Homo sapiens: one gene and its partner. The protein of the gene in region 1 purifies or fractionates together with the protein of each later gene. This does not show direct contact. Each region holds a gene or a part of one and is shown in the gene's direction. Other genes may lie near its edges.

What was found.
Region 2: the proteins of C5AR1 (region 1) and RABL3 purify together in Homo sapiens (co-immunoprecipitation; 2 studies listed by BioGRID and IntAct, with this or other methods). This does not show direct contact.

Annotation. Positions count from the first base shown.
Region 1 is NC_000019.10:47,303,033-47,314,917, forward strand, and holds the start of C5AR1 (C5a anaphylatoxin chemotactic receptor 1), read left to right. Parts: upstream 1-6,828; 5' UTR 6,829-6,863; coding exon 6,864-6,866; intron 6,867-11,885.
Region 2 is NC_000003.12:120,681,148-120,692,267, reverse strand, and holds the end of RABL3 (rab-like protein 3), read left to right. Parts: intron 1-1,780; coding exon 1,781-1,819; intron 1,820-2,164; coding exon of another isoform or gene 2,165-2,206; intron 2,207-2,379; coding exon 2,380-2,445; 3' UTR 2,446-7,330; downstream 7,331-11,120. Other genes in the region: HGD (homogentisate 1,2-dioxygenase), read left to right, coding at 10,157-10,171. UniProt on the Homo sapiens protein: Required for KRAS signaling regulation and modulation of cell proliferation. Regulator of KRAS prenylation, and probably prenylation of other small GTPases. Required for lymphocyte development and function. Not required for myeloid cell development.

The DNA of each region.
Region 1 (11,885 bases):
GACATGGGGTTTCTTCATGTTGCCCAGGCTGGTCTTGAACTCCTGGCCTCAAGCAATCCTCCCTCCTTGGCCTCTCAAAGTGCTGGGATTACAGGCGTGATCCACTGCACCCAGCTAAAGGATTTCTTATGCTGTTAAAACAGAACAAAGTGTTTTAAAATGTATTTACAAAAACATCATTCTGACGCCAGGTGCAGTGGCTCTTGCCTGCAATCCCAACACTTTGGGAGGCTGAGGTGAGAGGATTACTTGAGCCCAGGAGTTCGAGACAAGCCTGGGCAACATAGTGAGACCCCCGACTCTACAAAAAATAATAAAACCAAAATGAAAACCAAAACGTTATCCAGAAAAACAAAGTGATAAAGTACATTACTGGGGCCCAGCATGGTGGCTCACACCTGTAATCCTAGCACTTTGGGAGGTCGAGGTGGGAGGATCACCTGAGGTCAGGAGTTCGAGACCAGCCTGGCCGACATGGCGAAACCCCATCTCTACTAAAAATACAAAAATTTGGTGGCTCATGCCTGTAATCCCAGCACTTCGGGAGGCCAAGGCGGGCGGATCACGAGGTCAGGAGATCAAGACCGTCCTGGCTAACACGGTGAAACCCTGTCTCTACTAAAAAAAAAAAAATACAAAATATTAGCTGGGCATGGTGGCGGGCGCCTGTAGTCCCAGTTACTCGGGAGGCTGAGGCAGGAGAATGGCGTGAACCTGGGAGGCGGAGCTTGCAGTGAGCCGAGATCACGCCACTGTACTCCAGCCTGGGCAACAGAGTGAGACTCCATCTCAAAAAAAAAAAAAAAAAATTAGCCGGGCGTGGTGGCTGGGCGCCTATAATCCAAGCTACTTGGGAGACTGAGGCAGGAGAATCTCTTGAACTTGAGTGGCGGAGGTTGCAGTGAGCCGAGATTGTGCCACTGGACTCCAGCCTGGGCGACAAATTGAGACTCTGTCTCAGAAAAAAAAAAAAAAGTTATTGGAACAACTGGTGAAATTTCAGTGAGGGCTGAGTATAGTGTGGTATCAGTGGCATATTTCCTTATTTTGATAAATATATTGTGGTTATGTCAGAGAATATCCTGTCATAACCGCAATATAAGAGATACACAGTAACAAATTTATGGTAAAGGAGCATGATGTTTCCAAAGTACTCTCAAATGATTCCAGGAAAAACATAAGTAGACATAGATATATACGCCTGTATTATTTTTCTAGGGTTTACCAGCCCCCACAATTGCATGAGCCAATTTCTTTTTTTCTGTGTGTGTGTGACAAAGTTTCGCCCTTGTCACTCAAGGCTGGAGTGCAATGGCACGATCTCGGCTGACTGCAACCTCCACCTCCCGAGTTCAAGTGATTCTTCTCCCTCAGCCTCCCAAGTAGCTGGGATTACAGGTGCCCACCACCACACCTGGCTAATTTTTTGTATTCTTAGTAGAGATGGGGTTTCACCATGTTGGCCAGGCTGGTCTTGAACTCCTGACTTTCAGGTGATCCACCCGCCTTAGCCTCCCAAAGTGCTGGGATTACAGGCGTCAGCCACCGTGCCCGGCCTCTGTCTTTTTTTTTTTTTTTTTTTCGAGACAGGGTCTTGCTCTTTTGTCCAGGTTGCAGTGCAGTGGCACAATCATAGGTCACTGCAGCCTCGACCTCCTGGGCTCAGGTGATCCTCCTGCCTCTGCCTCCTAAGTAGCTAGGACTATAGGTGTGCTCCACCACACCTGGATAATTTTTTGTGTTTTGTAGAGATGGGGGTTTCACTATGTTACTTAGGCTGGTCTGGAACTCCTGGACTCCAGTGATCTTCCCACCATGGCCTCCCAAAATGCTAGGATTACAGGCATGAGCCATTGCTTCTGGCCCCAATTGCTTTCTTTTTCTTTCTTTCTTTTTTTTTTTTTTTGAGGCAGAGTCTCACTTTGTCGCCCAGGCTGGAGTGCAGTGGTATGATCTCGGTTCACTGCAACCTCTTCCTCCTGAGTTCAAGTGATTCTCCTGCCTCAGCCTCCCAAGTAGCTGGGACTACAGGTGCCTGCCACCATTCCCAGCTACTTTTTTGTATTTTTATTAAAGACGGGGTTTCACAATGTTGGTCAGCCTGGTCTCGAACTCTTTACCTCAAGTGATCTTCCCTCCTCGGCTTCCCAAAGTGCTGGGATTACAGGCGGGAGCCAACGCACCCGGCCGCTTTTACTATTCTTGCAACTTTTTTCATTTGACATTCCATCGAAATAAAAAGTTAAAAAAATTCTTTTTCTTCTGAGGGGGTGTTTTATCAAGGACACCTTTATCAAGGGTCCCGGGCCTAAAAATGTTAAGAACCCATGATTTACGGCTGAGGAGGCAACTTCCATCCAAAATCCTAAAAGTCAAGTTCCTGTGACCTGGCTTCCTGAACCTCCCCGCTCCTGCGCCCCCTGGAGGTCAGGGCTAGAACAACACGGCATTCCTATAATGCTCCAAATCGCCACAAATCGACCTTGGAAATCCTGGGTGAGTAACGCAGACTGCGCACATGGCTTCAATTAGCGGAACTAAAACTTGCTGAACATCGTGTACCCGCGTGTCCATGGCCAAACACAAACTCCACCTTTGTAAAAGTCTAGGTGAATTCCCAGCTGAATTCAGAAGCGTGACAGGAATGGGACTTTTCATTGGTGTCTTTTTCTTTTTTCTATTTTTAGAGTGGGGAGGAGTGTATTTCTGGATTGTTTAAATATTTACAATGAGCATGCATTTCCTTTGCAATTAAAAGAAAACCAGATTTTTTTTTTTTTTTTTTTGAGGCAGAATGTTGCTCTGTCCCCAGGCTGGAGTGCAGTGGCGCGATCTCGGCTCACTGCAACCTCTGCCTCCCGTGTTCAAGCAATTCTCCTGCCTCAGCCTCCTGAGTAGCTGGGACTACAAGTGCCCGCCACCACGCCCAGCTAATTTTTGTATTTTTAGTAGAGACGGGGTTTCACCATGTTAGCCAGGATAGTCTCAATCTCTTGAACTGGTGATCTGCCTGCCTCGGCTTCCCAAAGTGCTGGGATTACAGGCATGAGGACCGCACCCGGCCGAAAACCAGATTTTTAAAAATTGAAGTTTGCTGTAGAAAAATACTGTGGGAGAAAGTTGTGGGTGGTGTTTTGTAGAGTCGCAGAAGGACATGGGAAAAAAAAATTGAGTGTGTTTCTGTAATCATCATAACAATCACACTCATTGTGCCGTAGGCTCCAAGGGAGGGCTCTGAGCTGTGGTTACCAGATAAAATACAAGATTCTCAGGTAAAATGTGAAAAAAAAAATATTTTTGTGATCTTAACTCACTGCAGTCTTGATCTCCTGGGCTGAAGTGATCCTCCTGCCTCAGCCTCCCAGGTAGCTGGGACCACAGGCACGTGCCACCATGCCCAGCTAATTTTTAATTTATTTTGTTGAGATGGGATCTCACTATGTTGCCCAGGCTGCTCTCAAACTCCTGGCCTCAAGCGATCTTTCCTCGGTGTCCCCATGCCCTGGGATTACAGGTATGAAGCACCAGGCCCAACCCTGAAATTTAAAGTTAACTGGGCAGTCTGTAATGTGTTTTTGTTTGTGTAGGTGTGTGTGCTAAATCAGGCAACCCCCTATTCTGAGCAGAGGAGTGCTTTGATCTGACTTAGATTTTAATAGGCTCCCTCTGGTTGCTGGTGGAGATGAGACTACGGAGGGGGGGCAGTGAAGATCCCAGAGAGGAGGCTGCTGTAATGGTCCAAGCAGAAGGTGATAGTGATTTGGATCAGGGTAACAGAGCCGAGGTGGTGAGAGGTTGACAGGTCATGCATCTATTTCGAAGGAAAGGCCATGTCCAGGCTCCTTAGCTCGGCATTCAAGGCTTCTCTCCACCACTGGACACACTTACTCTCTAGCTTCTCAGACCCTGTTGCAGATAGAATCATGATCCCCAATGATGTCCACATCTTAATCCCCTGAACCTGTGAACAGGTGACCTTCCATGGCAAAAGGGACTTTGCAGATAGGATGAAGTTAAAGATCTTTAGATGGGGGAGCGATTATCCTGGATTGGGTCTGGGTGGGCTCAGTGGAATCACAAGAGTCCTTATATGAGGAAGATAGAAATTTGAGACATACGGTAGAGGAGGAGGTGATGAGACCACAGAGGCAGGGACGGGCGTGGTGCAACCACAAGCCAAGGAATTTCAGGAGCCACCTGAAGGTGGGAGAGGCAAGGAACAGATTCTCCCCTGGAACCTCTGGAGGGAGTGGTGACATCTTGATTTTGGACTTCTGGCCTGCAGAACCATGCCAAAATAATTGTCTGGCTTTTTTTTTCTTTTTTTTTCCTTGAGGTGGAGTCTTGCTTTGTCGCCCAGGCTGGAGTGCAGTGGTGCCATCTTGGCTCACTGCAACCTCCACCTCCCGGGTTCAAGTAATTCTTGTGCCTCAGCCTCCCGAGTAGCTGGGACTACAGGCATGCACCACCACACCCAGGTAATTTATGTATTTTTAGTAGAGATGGGGTTTTGCCATGTTGGCCAGGCTGGTCTTGAACTCTTGACCTCAATGATCTGCCCGCCTCAGCCTCCCAAAGTGCTGGGATTGCAGGCATGAGCCACTGCGCCCGGTCCTGGTGTTAAGCCCGCAGTTTGTGCTAATTGGTTACAGCAGCCTCGGGAAGGTAATCTAGGCTCCTTCCTTGCCCCAGGCTCTAGGAAGTATCTTAGCCCCCAGCCCTGGGCTGCAGACCTGTACCAGTCCATGGCCTGCTAGGAACCATGCAGCATCGCAGGAGGTGAGTGGCAGGTGAGTAAGTGAAGCTTCATCTGTATTTATAGCCACGCCCCTTCGCTCATATTACCGCCTGATCTGTCAGATCAGGGGCGGAATTACATTCTCATAAGAGCGTGAACCCAGGCCGGGCGCAGTGGCTCAAGCCTGTAATCCCAGCATTTTGGGAGGCTGAGGCGGGTGGATCACGAGGTCAGGAGTTCGAGATCAGCCTGGCCAAGATGGTGAAACCACGTCTCTACTAAAAATACAAAAATTAGCCGGGTGCAGTGGTAGGCACCTGTAGTCCCAGCTACTCGGGAGGCTGAGGCAGGAGAATCGCTTGAACCTGGGAGGCGGAGGTTGCAGTGTGCCGAGATCGTGCCACTGCACTCTAGCCTGGGTGAGAGAGTGAGACTCCATCTCAAAAAAAAAAAAAAAAAAAAAAAGAGCATGAACCCTGTTGTGAACAGCGCATGTGAGGGATCTGGGTTGCAAGCTCCTTATGAGAATCTAATGCCTGATGATCTGTCACTGTATCCCATCACCCCCAGATAGGACCATCTCGTTACAGGAAAACAAGCTCAGGGATTCCACTGATTCTACATTATGTTGAATTGTATAATTATTTCATTATATATTACAATGTAACAATAATAGATGGAGATGGTTGTGGCTTGTGTAGTTGGGGGACAGGGTAGCTCCATTTTCTATTGCCAACTTTATAACCCTAGAAGGATGATTTTTTTCTTTTCTTTTCTTTTTCTTTTCTTTTTTTTTTTTTTGAGATTGAGTCTTGGTGTTGTCAGCCTGGGCTGGAGTGCAATGGTGCAATCTCTGCTCACTGCAACCTCCGCCTCCTGGGTTCCAGCAATTCTCCTGCCTCAGCCTTCTGAGTAGCTGAGATTACAGGCACCCACCACCACGCCTGGCTAATTTTTGTATTTTTAGTAGAGATGGGGTTTCACCATATTGGCCAGGCTGGTGACGATGGTTTTTTTTTTTTGAGACAGAGTCTTGCTTTGTTGCCCAGGCTGGAGTGCAGTGGCGCAATCTTGGCTCACTGCAACCTCTGCCTCCCAGGTTTAAGCAATTCTCCTGCCTCAGCTTCCCAAGTAGCTGGGATTACAGGCACCTGCCACCACACCTGGGTAATTTTTGTATTTTTAGTAGAGACAGGGTTTCACCATGTTGGCCAGACTCGTCTTGAACTCCTGACCTCAAGTGATTCATTTGCCTCAGCCTCCCAAAGTGCTGGGATTATAGGTGTGAGCCATTGCACCTGGCCCTAGAAGGAAGATTTAACAGTAAAATATACTTAAATGCTGGGCTACCTCCGCAGACTAGCTCAGCCTCTTTGGGTCTCAAATCAGCCTGGCCGGGAGGCTGAGTGGAGGTTACAGTCTCTGCTTTCTTGAATCCCAAGGGAGGGGTTTAAGCCAACTGCATTCCTGAGCTTTTGCCCAGAAGGCTGGCGTCTTAGGAGGAAAGAGATAGATGGCTCCAGGCCGGGCGCAGTGGCTCACACTTGTAATTCTAGCACTTTGGGAGGTTGAGGTGGGTGATTGCCTGAGCTCAGGAGTTTGAGTCCAGCCTGGCCAACATGGCGAAACCCCGTCTTTACTAAAAATACAAAAAATTAGCCGGGGGTGGTGACACACACGTGTAATCCCAGCTACTCGGGAGGCTGAGGCAGGAGAAGTGCTTGAACCCAGGAGGCAGAGGTTACAGAGAGCCGAGATTGCACCACTCCACTGCAGCCTGGGCGACACAGCAAGACTCTATCAAAAAAAAAAAAAAAAAAATGAGAGAGAAGAGATGGCCCCAAATAGGGAAACCAAGGCCAGGAGAGGGGCCGAGCCTGCACAGGAGCTTCCTCGGTTTTCCGAGCGCCGGCCCCCCTTCTCTGCCTGGGAGGAGGTGGTTAGAGTCCCCTGGGTGTGTGCCCCGCAGAGGGAGCTCTGGCCTCAGTGCCCAGTGTGCAGACCAATGAGAGCCCCAGAGAGAAAGACGGTCATTTCCTCCCTGCATCTTCCCTTGGGGCTTTAAAAACCACAGCCCTTGGGCAGGAGGGACCTTCGATCCTCGGGGAGCCCAGGAGACCAGAACATGGTGAGTCTCGAAGGGGAATGGGAGCAGGAAACTTTGTCCTGGGTCCCTCCCATCTTTGCTCCAGTGGGTCCTTCTCTCTCCCCAACTCTCGCCGTCAACTCTGTCTGTCTCTCCCTTTCCTTCTCTCTCCCTGTCTTCCACCTCCCACCTTCCCTCTCTCCTGCATCCCAGGCTCTCACACTCCAGGGCTGGGATGTGGCCATGGGAATAAGATTGTCAAGATTGTGGGAGCAACAGCAACCTCGTGGGGCTGGGGCCCGAGAAGATTCCCCAGGGGAGGGGACCCTTGAGTTGGGTCTAGTAAGGTGACTAAGAATTCCACAAGCAGCCGAGCGCAGTGGGTCACACCTGTGATCCCAGCACATTGGGGATTGTGCCAAGGCGGGAGGATTGCTTGAGGCCAGGAGTTCAAGACCAGCCTGGCCAACATAGTGAGACCCTGTCTGTATTTTTTTTTTTATTTAAAGAATTCCACAAGTGAAGAAATCTAGAACAGGCCTTCCAGGCAGTGGGAATGGCAGAGAAAATGTTGGGAGGCTGGAAAGAACCAGTTTGGAGGAATGGTCAAGTTACTCAGATGCTCTTGCAGATAGATGTTCTTTTCTTTTTCGACTTGGGGTCTTGCACTGTTGCCCAGGCTGGAGTGCAGTGGCACCATCATAGCTCACTGCAGTCTTGAACTCTTGGGCTCAAGTGATCCTCCCTCTTTAGCCTCCTGAGTATCTGGGACCACAGGCATGCACCACTATGTCCGGCTAATTTTTAAAATTTTTATTCTTGTAGAGATGGGTTCTTGCTATGTTGTCAGGGCTGGTCTCAAATTCCTGGCCTCAAGCCATCCTCCCACCTTGGTCTCCCAAAGCTCTGGGATTACTGGCATGAGGCCATTATGCCTGGTCGTTTGAGATGTTCTGCATGACAGAGATGGGGAAACTGAGGCCCAGGCAGGAGCAGAGATGGATGGGGACCCTCCATGGTTGGTGGCAGAAGCAGGTTATGCCATGGATTCTGTGAGTGTCAGAAGGAATGCACCCCAGGCTAAATGAGGGTCCCTGTCATCCCTGCGTCTGGAGGCCTGGGCACTGAGCCAGCAGAGCTGCGATTCAGCACCTGCTGTAACACAGGCATTGCCTTGCTTCATCTGTGTCAAAGAGGAAACGGAAGATGGTTTGGATGGACCAGGGAGGGGTCTGATGTTGCTTCATTCCTGCATTCCACCCTTGAGATCCGACTTGGGCAAACGGGACTCTCTGATTCTTCTTCTTCTTTTTTTTTTTCTTTCCAAAACATTTTCCAAAGTACCAAATGATACTTGGTAAAAACTCATTCTCGGCCAGGCGCGGTGGCTCATGCGTGTAATCCCAGCACTTTGGGAGACTGAGGCGGGCGGATCACAAGGTCAGGAGATTGAGACCATCCTGGCCAACATGGTGAAACTCCGTCTCTACCAAAACTACAAAAATTAGCTGGGCATATAAGCGGGCGCCTGTAGTCCCAGCACTTGAGAGGCTGAGGCACGACAATCGCTTGAACCCATGAGGCAGAGGTTGCAGTGAGCCGAGATTGCTCTACTGCACTCCAGCCTGGCAACAGGGCCATCTCAAAAAACAAACATAGAAAAAAAAAAACTCATTCTCCCTGCCTACCCCAGAGCCTCTGACTCCTTTTCTTTCCTTTTATTTTGAGACAGAGTTTCACTCTTGTCGCCCAGGCTGGAGTGCAATGGCACGATCTTGGCTCACCACAACCTCTGCCTCGCGGCTTCAAGCAATTCTCCTGCCTCAGCCTCCCGACTAGGTGGGATTACAGGCATGCGCCACCACGCCTGGCTAATTTTTTGTCTTTTTAGTAGAGACGGAGTTTCACCATGTTGGCCAGGCTGGTCTTGAACTCCTGACCTCACGTGATCCACCCACATTGGTCTCCCAAAGTGCTGGGATTACAGGTATGAGCCACCCTACCTGGCCCTCTGACTCCTTTTCATTGCCTCCTACCCTACCTGGGGCAACCATGGGATGCCAGTTTGTGGTGGATCCTTCCAGAAACAGTTTACAGATGCCTGAGAGCACAGATGCTTAGGGAACAAAGTAAGGACTAGTGTGATGCGGGGAACCCCAAAACCGAGCTCAGCTTCTGTCTCTACTATGAAATAGTTGCGGAGATCTGTCCTCTCCGTGCTTCTGTCTCCTTATCTTTTTGTTTTTTGAGACAGTGTCTTGCTCTGTTGCCCAGGCTAGAGTGCAGTGGTGTGATCTCAGCTCACTGTAACCTCCACCTCCTGGGTTCAAGTGATTCTCCTGCCTCAGCCTCCCAGGTAGCTGGGACTACAGGTGCCTGCCACCATGCCTGGCTAATTTTTGTATTTTTAGTAGAGACGGGGTTTCACCGTGTTGGCCAGGCTGGTCTTGAACTCCTGGCCCCAAGCAATCTTCCCGCCTTGGCCTCCCAAAGTGCTGGGATTACAGGCGTGAGCCATCGCACCCAGCCTCCTTCTCCTTATCTTTAAGGTGAAGATAATACTAGAATCTACATCATAGGCTAGTTGAGAGAATTGACTGAGTGAATGCATGAAAAGTTCTTGTAGCAGTGCCTGGTATACAGTTGGCGCTCAATGTGGGTGACATTTCTATCCTTTCCCAGCCTTATAAATGGCAGTATGTTTTGTACAGTACTCTACATCTGGCTTTTTTAAATGAATAACATATAGTATTATTAACTAGCATTTATTGAGTGCTTACTGCATACCAGGCGTTGTATTAGGCATTCATTAATTTCCCCTTAACCTTGAGGAAGGTACTTCATTCCCGTGTAGTTCAAGGGAGTTGCCTCCTCCTCCTCCTCCTTTTTTTCTTTTTTCTAGACAGGGTCTACTGAGGTCTTCCACCTCAGCCTCCTGAGTAGGTGGGACTACAGGTGCATGCCACCACACCCAGCTAGATTTAAAATTTTTTGTAGAGGTGGGGTCTTGCTATGTTGCCCAGCCTGGTGCTTCTTTCTTTCTTTTATCAGCTGAGTAATATGCTAGTAGGAGGTTTCATCCCCTTCAATGGAAATTTAGTTTGCTTCTAATATTTGGTCTGTTTTGTTTTGTTTTGAGACAGAGTCTCGCTCTGTCACCCAGCCTGGAGGGCAGTGGTGCAGTCTTGGCTCACTGCACCTCTGCCTCCTGGATTCTGGTGATTCTCCTGCCTCGGCCTCCCAAGTAGCTGGTATCACAGGTGCGTGCCACCACACACGGCTAATTTTTGTATTTTATTTTAGTAGAGACGGGATTTCACCATGTTGGCCAGGCTGGTCTCGAACTCCTGACCTCGTGATCCACCCGCCTCAGCCTCCCAAAGTGCTGGGATTATAGGCGTGAGCCACCGCGCCTGGCGTCCAGCCACATTCTTTAACTCAGCATCTGCAGACCTTCCAGTCCTATCTTGGCCGCCTGCCAGCCATGCTGACCTTTCGTTTCTGCTGTGCACCACCTGCCCTTCCTCTCTCCTTTCTGCCTAGAATGCATGCCCCCCCACTCCCAATGCACTTTAGGCCTGCCTGGTAGCCACTCAAACAGAGGGCTCTGGGCTGGGCGCGGTGGCTCATGCCTGTAATCCCAGCACTTTGGGAGGCTGAGGTGGGTGGATCACGAGGTCAGGAGATCAAGACTATCCTGGCTAACACGGTGAAACCCTGTCTCTACTAAAAATAAAATTAGCCAGGCATGGTGGCGGGCACCTGTAGTCCCAGCTACTCGGGAGGCTGAGGCTAGCAAATGGTGTGAATCCAGGAGGCGGAGCTTGCAGTGAGCTGAGATCGCGCCACTGCACTCCAGCCTGGGGACAGAGCGAGATTCCGTCTCATAAAAAAAAAAAAGAGAGAGAGGGCTCTGGGGCTCAGCTCTCAGGAGTTTCTCTCCTGTCTCTGTTCTTGCTAACCGAGAAGACTTGGAGAGGTCTGTTCATTTCTCTGTAGCCTCATTTTTCTCTTCTGGAAAATGAGTGTTGCTGTTGCAACAAGTAAGTCTCCTAGGGTTGCTTTGTGGGTTCAATGAGATAATACACGAGAAAGGCTCAGGACAGCCTGGCAATGATTATGGCTGTTCTTGTAGGTACTGCGCCTTCTCCTTCACCCTGTTCTCATCCGATCGTTCACATCTTGCGGCCAGCACCCTTGTCTAAGCCACCGTCATGCCTCACGTCACCTGGACAGTTCCAATCTCCGTTTCCTCCCAGCTTCTGCTCTCTGCCCCTTTCTCCATGCAACAGACAAGGGTTGTTCCTCTAATGAGCATGTGAATTTAGGAAGAATAATAGTACCCTGCCCTTTGTGCTATTGTCACATAGATATGCACTGTGATTAGGAAATTACTAAGCCAACACCTGGGAAGCACATGGAATAGTGCCGGGCAATTAGAACCCCCAGAGTGGCCCTGGACCTGCACTGCCCAATATGTGGGCCACGTGCCACAATGCAGCTACCTACGTTTATTTTTCACTATTTTATTTTATTTTACTTTATTTATTTTATTTTTGAGATGGAGTTTTGCTCTTGTTGCCCAGGCTGGAGTATAGTGAAGCGATCTCGGCTCACTGTAGCCTCCACCTCCCGGGTTCCAGTGATTCTTCTGCCTCAGCCTCCCAGATAGCTGGGATTACAGGCGCACGCCACCACTCCTGGCTAATTTTTGTATTTTTAGTAGAGACAGGGTTTCACCATGTTGGTCAGGCTGGTCTTGAACTGCTGACCTCAGGTGATCCACCCGCCTGGGCCTCCCAAATTGCTGGAATTACAGGCGTGAACCACCGTGTCCAGCCTATTTTATTTTTTAGAGATGGAGTCTCGCTATGTTGCCCAGGCTGGAGTGCAGTGGCACGATCTCGGCTCACTACAACCTCCACCTCCTGGGTTCAAGTGTTTTTCCTGCCTCAGTCTACTGAGTAGCTGGAATTACAGGTGCCTGCCATCACACCCAGCTAATTTTTGTATTTTTAGTAGAGACGGGGTTTCACTATGTTGGCCAGTCTGGGCTTGAAC
Region 2 (11,120 bases), on another chromosome or scaffold:
GAGATCGCACCACTGCACTCCAGCCTGGGTGACAGAGCAGGACTCCATCTGAAACAAACAAAAAAAAAAGATTTCTTCTCCAAAAGGAAGTCTAACTCCTTCTCCAGCCTCTTTCAACTAGTAGTAATTCCTCACGCTCCAGAATAATCAGATTTTCCTGTCCTGCCATAGAGAGGAAAGGGAATCAGTCTCCTTCTTGGTTTTTGTGGGATTGTTTTAAGATGTACACTAATGATAAACCAACTTTTCTACCTCTGGGGTAAGTGAATGCAACTTTGCCCTGGTGTCTTGTGGCTAAAAATAATCCAGCTATAGTCTCCAAGACAGCAAGAATCTGGATGAATGGCTGTCGCACCAGAGAGAGCAAGCTGGTCTTGGTCTTGGATCTGGATGAATGGTCTTGGTGTTGAATCTGGATGAATGGCTGTGGCACCAGAGAGAGCAAGCTGGTCTGTTCTCATTCAGAGGAACTCTTAGCTGCATAATTTCAGATTTGAATGTCTTAGAGTTCATCTCCAGCTGATCTGTATTATTATCCGATTAACTTTTCTTATCACAGCAGGTCTATGTAAAGAAAATACAGCTATTCCTCAACTTGCGATAGGGTTATATCTCAGTAAACCCCTTGTAAATTGGAAACATTGTTAGTCAAAAATACATTTATTACACCCAACTTACCAAGCATCGCAGCTTAGCCTAGCCTTCCTTAAACATGCTCAGAACACTTATGTTAGCCTACAGTTAGGCAGAATCATCTAACACAAGCCTATTTTATTAAAAAGTTGTGAATGGCTCATGTAATTTATTGAATACTATACTGAAAGTGAAAAAAGTGCCCATTGTATGGGCACTCAAAGTACAGTTTCTACTGAATGCATGTTGCTTTCACACCACCATAAAGTCAAAAAATCGTAGTCAAGCCATCCTAAATCAGAGACCATTTATAATACTTCCTCTGTAACCATTGCAGTTTCTCAAGTGTCAGAACAGAATTTATTATTCTTGAAAATGTTTTTCATCATCTGGAAACATGGTGCTCTTTAGGGTTTACAGCAGTTTTGGGAAAAAATGAAAACATGGTGCTCTTAAACTTATTACATTTGGACATATATTTTGAGGGTTTCTTTTCAATAATGGTGATGGATTTGTGCAGATACATCTGCTGCTTGAACATGTTTTTTCTACTTATCAAATGCAGGTAATTCTGAAACTACTGAAGTAAGGGTGCAGTTAGTTAAAAAAAAGTAGACAATTTACAACAGTCATTAGACTGCTTTTGATGTTGTGTCATCTGTCTATATTGAGGACATATAGAATTTGTCACCACTTACTATAGGGATGTGGTGGTTTGCTATGTTAAACAGTCCCCTCTTTAAGAAATAGACAAGACTATTGTAGCAGGCAAGTGCTTTTTTTATTTTATGGATGCTGTTTAGTACCTTTTGGGACTGACTGCTAGGAAACTTAGAGTCAGATTTGCTGTCATACTCTAAGAATTGCATAGGATCTTATATCATTCTATCATTATTTAGTTTTTGTTATTCATTTATTTTTTGATCTATCATTAATGCGTTTTGGAATGAGGCAGGCTTTTATGGAAATACTCTCACAATTCTGATCTCATTAACACCAGATTTTTAGCTGACTGTACTACATGTCTACTGCTATGGAAAAGATTCTTAGTTTGGATATATTCCTTTTAGTACCATTAGTGGTCGTTGCAGTTAGCCACTTTTTGCAGGTATGTGTGCTAAGCCTTTAAAATCTTTGTTTTTCACAGGTCATAGAGAAGAGATACTTTTTAAGAGAAGGTAATCAGGTTGGTATCTCTTTTCTTGATAAAATAGATTCTTAAATTTTGATAGGTGATTTCCAAATTTAAGTTCAGAAGTAGTTTTAAAAAGTTGGGGAAAGCCCTTTATAGGCACAAGCAACTGATTTCCTTCTATCCTGTTAAATACAAAAGGAGAAAATCAGAACAAAGGGAAAATAAGGATCTAGGAAACAAATATAATCTAGGAATAAGATTACATTATAAAATAGAAGAAGAAAATAATTTGCTTGGGACTCCAAGAGTATACGTTCAGGGTCTGTCACAATACAAATAATTTCTATAAAAGTCTAGTAGGTATTATGAGATTTACCTTCATTCTTTCTGATTTAGATGACACTATCACCAATTTGTTGGGAAATGTTTTCCATTTGGGTAAGATTTATTTTTATTATTTAATCTGTGGTTTTCTGAGTAAAACCTCAGAAAGTTGTTTTTTTAAGAAACAGCAGGCTGACATACAGAAATGGAAAAGAAGGGAAAAATTACTATTAGTATTTGAACTTTTATTGCTTGAGACTTAATGCAATTATCTTTCTTGCCTACAGATTCCAGGCTTTCCTGATCGGAAAAGATTTGGGGCAGGAACATTAAAGAGCCTTCATTATGACTGAATTACACTCATCCTTTGGAAGAGTGAGCAAGCAGTGGCAGTTTTTCACAGCTCATCTTGCTGTGTTCAATTATTACCATCACAGCCTTTTAACAAAATCATCTTAAAATGCTACCCTTCAGCCTTACCCTTTAATGGAAAAATGAAAGGAAGTGACAATACGGGAGGTCCAAACTTTGTCCCTGTTCTCTGTGTTCCTTACCTTTCTGTCCCTGTGTATAGATTATGTAAAAGCCTTGTGTAAATATGAGATGTTGTCAAAATGATGCAGTAAATGAGCAATGACAGTGTACTGCAGAGAAAATTTACTCTTGCCTAGAACTGGAGGGTTTTTATGGGTCTGTAATTTTCCCACACTCATTGCTGAAAGCTTAATTAAGTACTTCAAAAACGTATCTCCATTGTTTTACCTTCTTGAGGGGAACGGTCTTGTTAACCAGCCCTGAGTTGTCTACCCCAAACAATCTCTGTCATTTTCAAAGATGCAAAATGGTGTTATTTAATTGTCTCCACCATTGTCACACACAGGAATGCCTAATAATAGCAACCCTTGTCTCCCTCTTCTCTCCTTTGCAAATGGCTCAGTGACTGGAAGAGGCGGACTAATAGCCAGAGTTAAATATAAATACAAATTAATAATACATAGAGAACAGCAATACCAGAAAAAAAGAATTCTGGTAAAATGATGTGAAAAATTGACAGCTCCCTCACTCTTAAGGTTGCTGCTATATACAGTCTAGGTTTTCTGTTTGGAAATAGGTAGGGTAAAATCTAAGACCTGCACAAGGGCAGTGAGAGACATTTACAGCCTCCTCTCTATTTGTTTTTTTAAGGAAAAGTCAACTCCTGAAATGTCCCTTAGCTATAATCAGAAAACTAAGAATATTATTCTGTGTCAACAATGTATTTATGGAGAGAAGTAAAAATAAGTTCCACAGCAACACATTTACATGAATTATGAACTAGGATTCTTGGATTTCATAATCACTCCAAAGCTTTTTGGGGATGGTGTGTGTGTGTGTGTGTGTCCGTAATTGTTCATCATTACTTTTTTTAACCTATCTTTTTGCTTGCTTAATCTTCTCTGCCCCAGTTCTTCCTGAGTATATGAATTTGATTTCTAAAAACAATTTATTCAACACTCTATCACCCGTATTCTCTCTCTGGCTCTGCTGCAGGTCTCTGCACTCCTGATTTTGCTCCATACTTTTAAATAACAATAATAAATATACAGTTTTCATTTCTCATTTAAAAAATAGGTGGAAAACACCAAATTCACTTTCTGTTCCATTTTAATTAGGTTTCAGAAGTATCTTGGAAATCAAGGTATGCTGCAAGAGGATATTAAAATAAGAATGTTAGAGAGTCCTTTTAGAAAGGCAGTCTTGGGAATTTGGAAAAGGATTTTTAAAGCAGCTTTCATCAGCTAGACTGTTCTCCAGCCTTTCTTTACTTCCTCTTTGAAAGGACATAGCCCTGGTTTCTTTTTGACACAAAGGAAAGCTATGCAAATCATGATCTGTATGTAGAATTGGTCACAAGTATGTTGTTGCATAGGCTGTACAGTTGGGAAGTAGAAACCAAATGCTACCCAGAGACCTAACCCAATTAAGCTCTTTGTATTTCTCCTTCAAGAAATAAATCTTCCTTCCTTCTTTCTTCCTCTTTCTTTTAATTTTAAAAAAATTCATCCTGATTTTTTTATTTTCTATCTTATTTAAAAAATAAAAATAGGCCAGGCGCGGTGGCTCACACCTTTAATCCCAACACTTTGGGAGGCGGGTCGATCACTTGATATCAGGAGTTTGAGACCAGCCTGGCCAACATAGGGAAACCCTGTCTCTACTAAAAATACAAAAATTAGCCAGGCCTGGTGGCACGCGCCTGTAATCCCAGCTACTTGGGAGGCTGAGGCAGGAGAATCACTTGAACCTGGGAGGTGGAGGTTGCAGTGAGTCAAGATCGTGTCACTGCACTCCAGCCTAGGTGACAGAGTGAGACTCCAACTAAAAGAAAATAAATAAATAAATATATAAATATATAAATAAATAATAAAAGTAAACTATTGCTGATGACTCCAGGGTCAATCTGGAAAAATTAACAGTATTCCTCAACTCCATTACTTTCTGCAGCCAAGCTTGATTCCTTGAATTATAGTTTTCTAAGAAAAAATAGTTTTTAATAATCTAAGGTAAATTTGTTGCAATTATTAGCAGCAGCATAATAAGGCTTTTTGCGCAAATGAATGTTATTAGCTAGAGTTATTCAAAAAAGAATGAAGCACAATTTTTGCTAGGACTTCTTGAGAACTATTCATAAAAATGCTTTTAGATAATAAACAAGTATAAATGTCAAAATATTTTTTTAAAAGTATAATTGGCCAGGTGCTGGCTCACGCCTATAATCCCAGCACTCTAGGAGACTGAGGCAGGAGGATCACTTGAGCTCGGGAGTTTGAGGCTGCAGTGATTCATGATTGCACCACTGCCTTCCAGCAGCCTGATGACAGAGTGGGACTCCATCTCTTTACATATGTATATCTTACTCTCTTGATGGGACAAGTTGGTAGAAATAAAGATTTTTTTTTTCTGTTGTGATTTCGGTGTCTGACCAATTTTCTGACTCATTGTGAAGGTGACCAGATATGAAGGCATATATATGACTACTCCTCTGTCCCTTAGGTGTATAAGACTTAGCTGGAATCCAACTAAAGATTTGGGCTGGTCTCTCCATCTTAACGTTGATGGGATTCAGGACACATAACCCCAAAATATTGCACCCTGTTATTTGAGAAAACTGCAGAAGCAAGGTTTCTCATACCTTCCCCTTACCCCTTCTCCCCTGAAGCAGGCCATAAACCCTAAGTGACTGTTCCCTGAAGTAGATCATAAAACCTTCATTCCATAGGTACCCTTTATCCTCACAGATACAGAGACACCAAGAAGAATCTGGACAAATAGGACTTGCTAAGTTCTCCACAGTTTATTACCATTAGATTATGTCCTTTTGTCCTCTGATTATACTTCTGCATAAGACTGTACATAAAAATACACAAGTTTTCCTATTTCTTTTTTGTCTTCATTTCTGAAGATTCCTGTCATGTAAAACTTACAGTAAATAAATGTGTGTGCTTTTCTCAATAATCTGTCTTTCGTTATAGGTGCCTCATTTGTGAACCTAGTGATGGGTGAAGAAAGAAAGCTCTTCTCCGCTACAGTGCTCTAAGAAAAGCTATTCCCAAAAGAGTTGATCCATATTAGCTTTAGCTCGGGTTCTTAGAATTCCTCAAACTTGAGGCATTCATGATATAATCCAGGTGCCCTGACACTTGTTTTTCTGTTCATTCTGACATGGACTTCATGGAAATGATGTGCAGGGACATCAGACTGAGGTGAAGAGCTCCTAATTGCTCCTTGTAATCAGAGTTTCTGAGTCCTCATTTCAATAGTTTGCAGTAGCACCCACCATAGGTAGGACCTTGTATGGGTTACTAGATGGTGGCTTAATTGAATTTTTTAAAGCACAGGTGACATCATATTTTAAGAAGTTTAAAGGTCTAACAGGGTGTCTGCATTGGTTTAATATATGTTAAAATTCAAAGGAGGAGTCTGTTTTGGGGAAAGGAGGAGAAGGAAATTAGAAATTCATTTCTCCGCAGTCCCAAGACTGAGCTAAATCACTGTGGTGGGAGAGGAAGGGTCGCAGGAAGTCTAACCCTGTGTCTCAAATATTTCACAACATGTTTGCCTACACAAAATATCTGATGTTAGGGTCAGCTGGGGCTGCTCCATAGCATAGTAAAGGAATTGGACATCCAGTTACAATTAATCTGCACCTCCATTAAGGACTCACATGGAGGGCTTTCAAACTCTGAAGTGTGTAAGAATCCCCTGAAGTGCTTGCTGAAAATGCAGATTCCACGATTTCCTCTCTCTTCCCTTACTCTCCCCTTTCTATATGTATAGGATAAGGCCAGGATTTTGTATTTTTAACAGACAAGCCAGATTTTTCTCATGCAGATAAGTCAGGATCTAGCCTTTAAGAAAGACAAATAAACTCATCAAAAAGTAGGGAATATAGATTGTGAACTCTGTACTTTATGAGTGCCATTATAGCAGAATTCATCAAAGCGCATCTTTGACTGCCTCAACCTGATCTCACCTTAATGAACTGATCCACTCCTCCCCACTCAAAGCTACATATGCCAAATTAAACATGAGATGATTGTCATGTCTTCTGTTGGCAAAACAAGTATTTGTCTTTCATGTATTGCTATCATTTTTATTACTGCCACTGTTTTTCCCCTGGGTTCTGTTTTTAATCCAAATATATTTATTTCTAACCAGTGCCTTGCCATCTTACACACAGCCCCCTCTCTAGTACTGTGTTTTCTCAGCTGGCTAATCACTAAGCTTTACCGAGGTCATCAATAACTAATGACAAAGAATGGAACCCCTAAACTCCAACCAAGGTGTAAAACCTCGCTCAGTACCATCAAGTATATCAGGTAATCTCTCCGTTCCATCTTTTTCTCGGAGACATCTGTCCTGGAGTCCTCTGATGCCTAACTCCGTTTTGGAGTGATTACTCTGTAGACCTGTCACACCCTGCTTCACATTACCTTGTAGCAATTCCTGGATGTAATGTTTTCCACTTTCTATCCAACTCTTACTCTATGGGACTTGGCTCAGACATAGTCTTCTCTGGGAAGCCCTCCCTGGCTCTGCTCGTCTGGGCTACGTGCCCACTAGTGCTTCCCCTAGATCCCTGGGCTCTTTCCTGTCAGAGCACTTACACTATGTTGTGATGGTTTTCAAAAATTGTTAAATAAATGAATGTATAATTACATTAATTAAAATGGAAAGCCATTAGACATAGAATCAGAACTTATCTGTAGCTGTGTAAGTTATTTATTCTCCAATCCCAGCAGGACATGATGGCTTATGCCTGTAATTCCAATACTTTGGGAGGCTGAGGCCAGAGGATGGCTTATGCCTGGGAGTTAAAGGCTGCAGTGAGCTGTGATGATGCCACTGCACTCCAGCTTGGATGACACAGCAAGACTCTGTCTCTAAAAAAAAACATTAAGTCAGGTGCAGGAGTTCACGTCTGTAATCCCAGCACTTTGGGAGGCTGAAGTGGGAGGATTGCTTGAGCCTAGGAGTTCAAGTTCAGCCTGGGCAACATGACGAGACCTCATCTCTACTAAAAAATTTTTAAAGTAGCCGGGTGTGGTGGTGTGTGCCTGTAGTCCCAGCTACTCAGGAGGCTGAGATGGGAGGATCGCTTTAGCCCAGGAGGTTGAGGCTTCAGTGAGCCATTTTTGTGCCACTGCACTCCAGCCTGGATGACAGAGAACCTGTCTCAAAAAAAAAATTAAATAATAAAATAATATTTTAATATCCCCTGTGTGTATTCTCTCCTTTTAGAAGGAATCCCTAAAGTTTAGTGAAAGATGTATTCAACTTTAAATATTTTCAAGCCCCTCAAAGTAATTTTAATCCAGTCAAGGAACTGTTAACACTTTCTTACCCCTTCAGAAGTCTCTCATACCTTAGGAAAGAACTGAAACACTTCTTAAATCTGCCTTCACAACTGGTTCAATGGAAGTAACATAGAAAGTTTGTTGAAAAATAAGGCAGTAAAGATTTCCCTTTGTCTTTTATTAGCTCCCATTTGTTTATCTAATGACCAACTGCTAACTTCCAAGATCAATAGAGATTGAAGGCCCAAGGTACTCATAAACTTAGATACACAGGAGATATTTTCTTCGAATTCAGTTTCAGAGTCTGCATGTTATAGGAATAGTGAAAACTTAGCCTCAATAAAGCTAGGGCCTCCACCTACCTTCCTCCTAGGTTTGCATATGAATTCCAGAATAGTTTATATAATGCCACAATGCCATCTGTCTATGCTGACATATGCTGAGGTTTCCTATCAGCTGCCCGGTCCGTAGGCATCAGTCCACATGGTTTGCTACCAGCATGTTTCCTATCAACATGTCCCCTTTGGTCTGGCCCAGTCTGTGCTAGCACCTCATACACAGGCAATAATTCTGCTGCTACTGCAGTATGCTGGAGCCTGGGGACCCTTGGAGGTTGTTTAAGCCCATTTATCTAAAGCAGAGGGTCTCAAACTAGCAGCCTGTGGCCACTTCAAATATGCACATGTTTTTCAACCTGCATGATTATATCAGTTATTTATCACTGCTTAACAAACCACCCCAAAATTTAGTAGTGTGAAATACACCATTCTATTTGTTCCCAATTCTGTGGCTCAGCAGTTCGGGCCAGATTTAACTGGTGGTTCTTCTGCTGGTCTTGCCTGGGATCACACATGTTCTGCAGTCACCTGGCAGCCAGACTGCCTCATTCACATGTCTGGCAGTTCCTGTGGGGCTTGCAGGGCTGTTGCCTGGACCTCTGGAGGCCAGCCCAGCTTCTCTGCACTGTGGTCTCAGGCTGCAAGAATGGGCCCTGTCCTAAGGCACAGGCATGTTTCAAACTCTGTGTCATGTTTGCTACTAGCCAAAGAAAAAGACCCTACCTCTTGATGGGAGGAACAGCAAAGTCACATTCAAAGGGGCACACATACAAGGATAGGAGGAATTGGAGCATTTTTTGCCATCTACCACAGGGTGGTTTCTCTGTCTCTCTCACTCTAATTACCAATGGTTAAAAATTGGAGCTTCATCTTATCTTGAAAAATCAGCTAGCCTACTTTATTCACTTACACTTCCTCCCTCATCTGTTGGCATTTGAGTTGTGATAATGCCTAATTTACAAGATTGTTTTTGTGAAGTTAGATATGGAAAAATCTGACAAAAGCAGAAACTCAATATATGTTTTCTCCTTTCTGAACACCACTAGTCATGAAGCTGCTACCTGCCAATGACCAAGGAGAGCGGCCAAGATGAAGAACAAGGGAGTCATAGAGGAGGTGGCTGGAGAATAATCCCTTGGTCTGTTTTAGAAGTATAGAGGCATTAGGAAACAAAACTCTTAAAGAATTTATAAGAAAACTAAACGTACTTTAAGAAATTAAAAGGAGCAGTAGGAAACATATCAGTTTGCTCTAAGTGAAATATCTCAGGCTCTGAATGGTTCACCCAAGAACCTGAGCTCATTCCTGGGAGGCACCTGCAGAAAACTGGTTCTGGTCCTGGTCCCTGTCTTCAGGTGGCTGTGTGTAAACATCTTACCCCAGTGTACACATCTGCAGCTGGTAAATGCCTGGGGGTTTTCTCACTGCTCTCCAGGAGACTCAGCACTGCCCTGTTCCTTCCTAGCCTGAGTCAGGACTGAGCAGAGAATCCTCCACCACACACAGCAGGCACTATCTGCCACAGTTCCTTTCCCCGATAGCTTCAAATTCTCTGCCTTTTGAAATAAGCCTACTTTTAACTGGAATAAATAATTGGTCAATCTCTACCTCAGGTGAAGAGGAACCAAGCCTCTGGAAACACTTAGGAACAAACTGTAAAAACCAAAGGCAATTGTGTAACCGGTTAAATAAGCTTGCTGGACTTTGTCCCTGTGTATGAGTTAGACAATTCTTTCAGCTAGTTTGAGTGACGCACTGACCAGTGAAGCGCAGTGAAGCAGTGGGAACCGGAATATCCAAAGAGTGGTTTGAAGGAGAAAGAAGCATTGTGGCTTTATATCCTCTGGGCCTGGGTTTCCTGAAGTCACCACACATAGAGGAGAGAGAAAATGGCTGAGTTAAAGGTAAGAAACCATCTGACAAGTTTGCTATGGCTTCTTCAGCCAAAATTTATGGAAGTTTCTGAGAACTTCAGGGTATCAGAGTTGGAAAAGACTTAGAGAGGCCCTGGTTCAAACCCCTGTGTTCAGAGGCTTCCCTGTGGTGTCTGTGGGCACAGCTGGAGCTGAAGAACAAGGGAAAGGTGATAAAGGAAAGAAATGAAGCTCTTATTGGTCATCCCTTGCCTTTGTTCATTTCAATTATTGTCTTGGAAATCTGTAGACATCCTAAGAGCTCCCCTCCACTACGGACATGCACGTTTCTCTCTATGTCTTTTTCCCAACCCCTGCTCTGACACCTTCCCATTGCTGCAGCCTCATGGACCACTTCCGGTGACCAGTTAGATATGCTTGATCTATTTAGTTAATTAAGGCTCTGAATCAGCCCTTGGCCAGAAGAAGCACCTCCTCTAGGAAATCATTCCTTCTTTTTAGTAATACGCAATTGAAAAGTATGTGTGGGTTATGTGCTGTTAGGTGCTAAGCATTTTAGCTATGAATTAACTCATAATCCTCAAAATAAATCTGGGGTATAGAGAGAGGTTCTTGTTTCAATTAGAAAAGTAATGCTTGGAGAGACTATGATTTGCCCAAGGTCACTGCCAATAGATGACTTGATTAGAAGCAGGGTATGTTTGAATGCGAAGTCCAGGCTCAAAAAGGGGCCTTAGTGGCTCCTACTAGACTGGTATCTTAAGGCAAGGAAAACAGAATATGTCCCTAATATCTAAAACCATGCCTAGTGCCCAGGCCAGGCTTGAATCAATGCTCAACGCATGCATGTGTAACTGAACAGAACTGCCCAGAACCTTGGCTCAGGCCAAGTAGGCCAGACCACCCCACAACAGACATCTTCCCTGAATGCAGGGTTTGAGAAGTGCCCTAATGCCCTCTAACTGATGCTGAGTTTGAA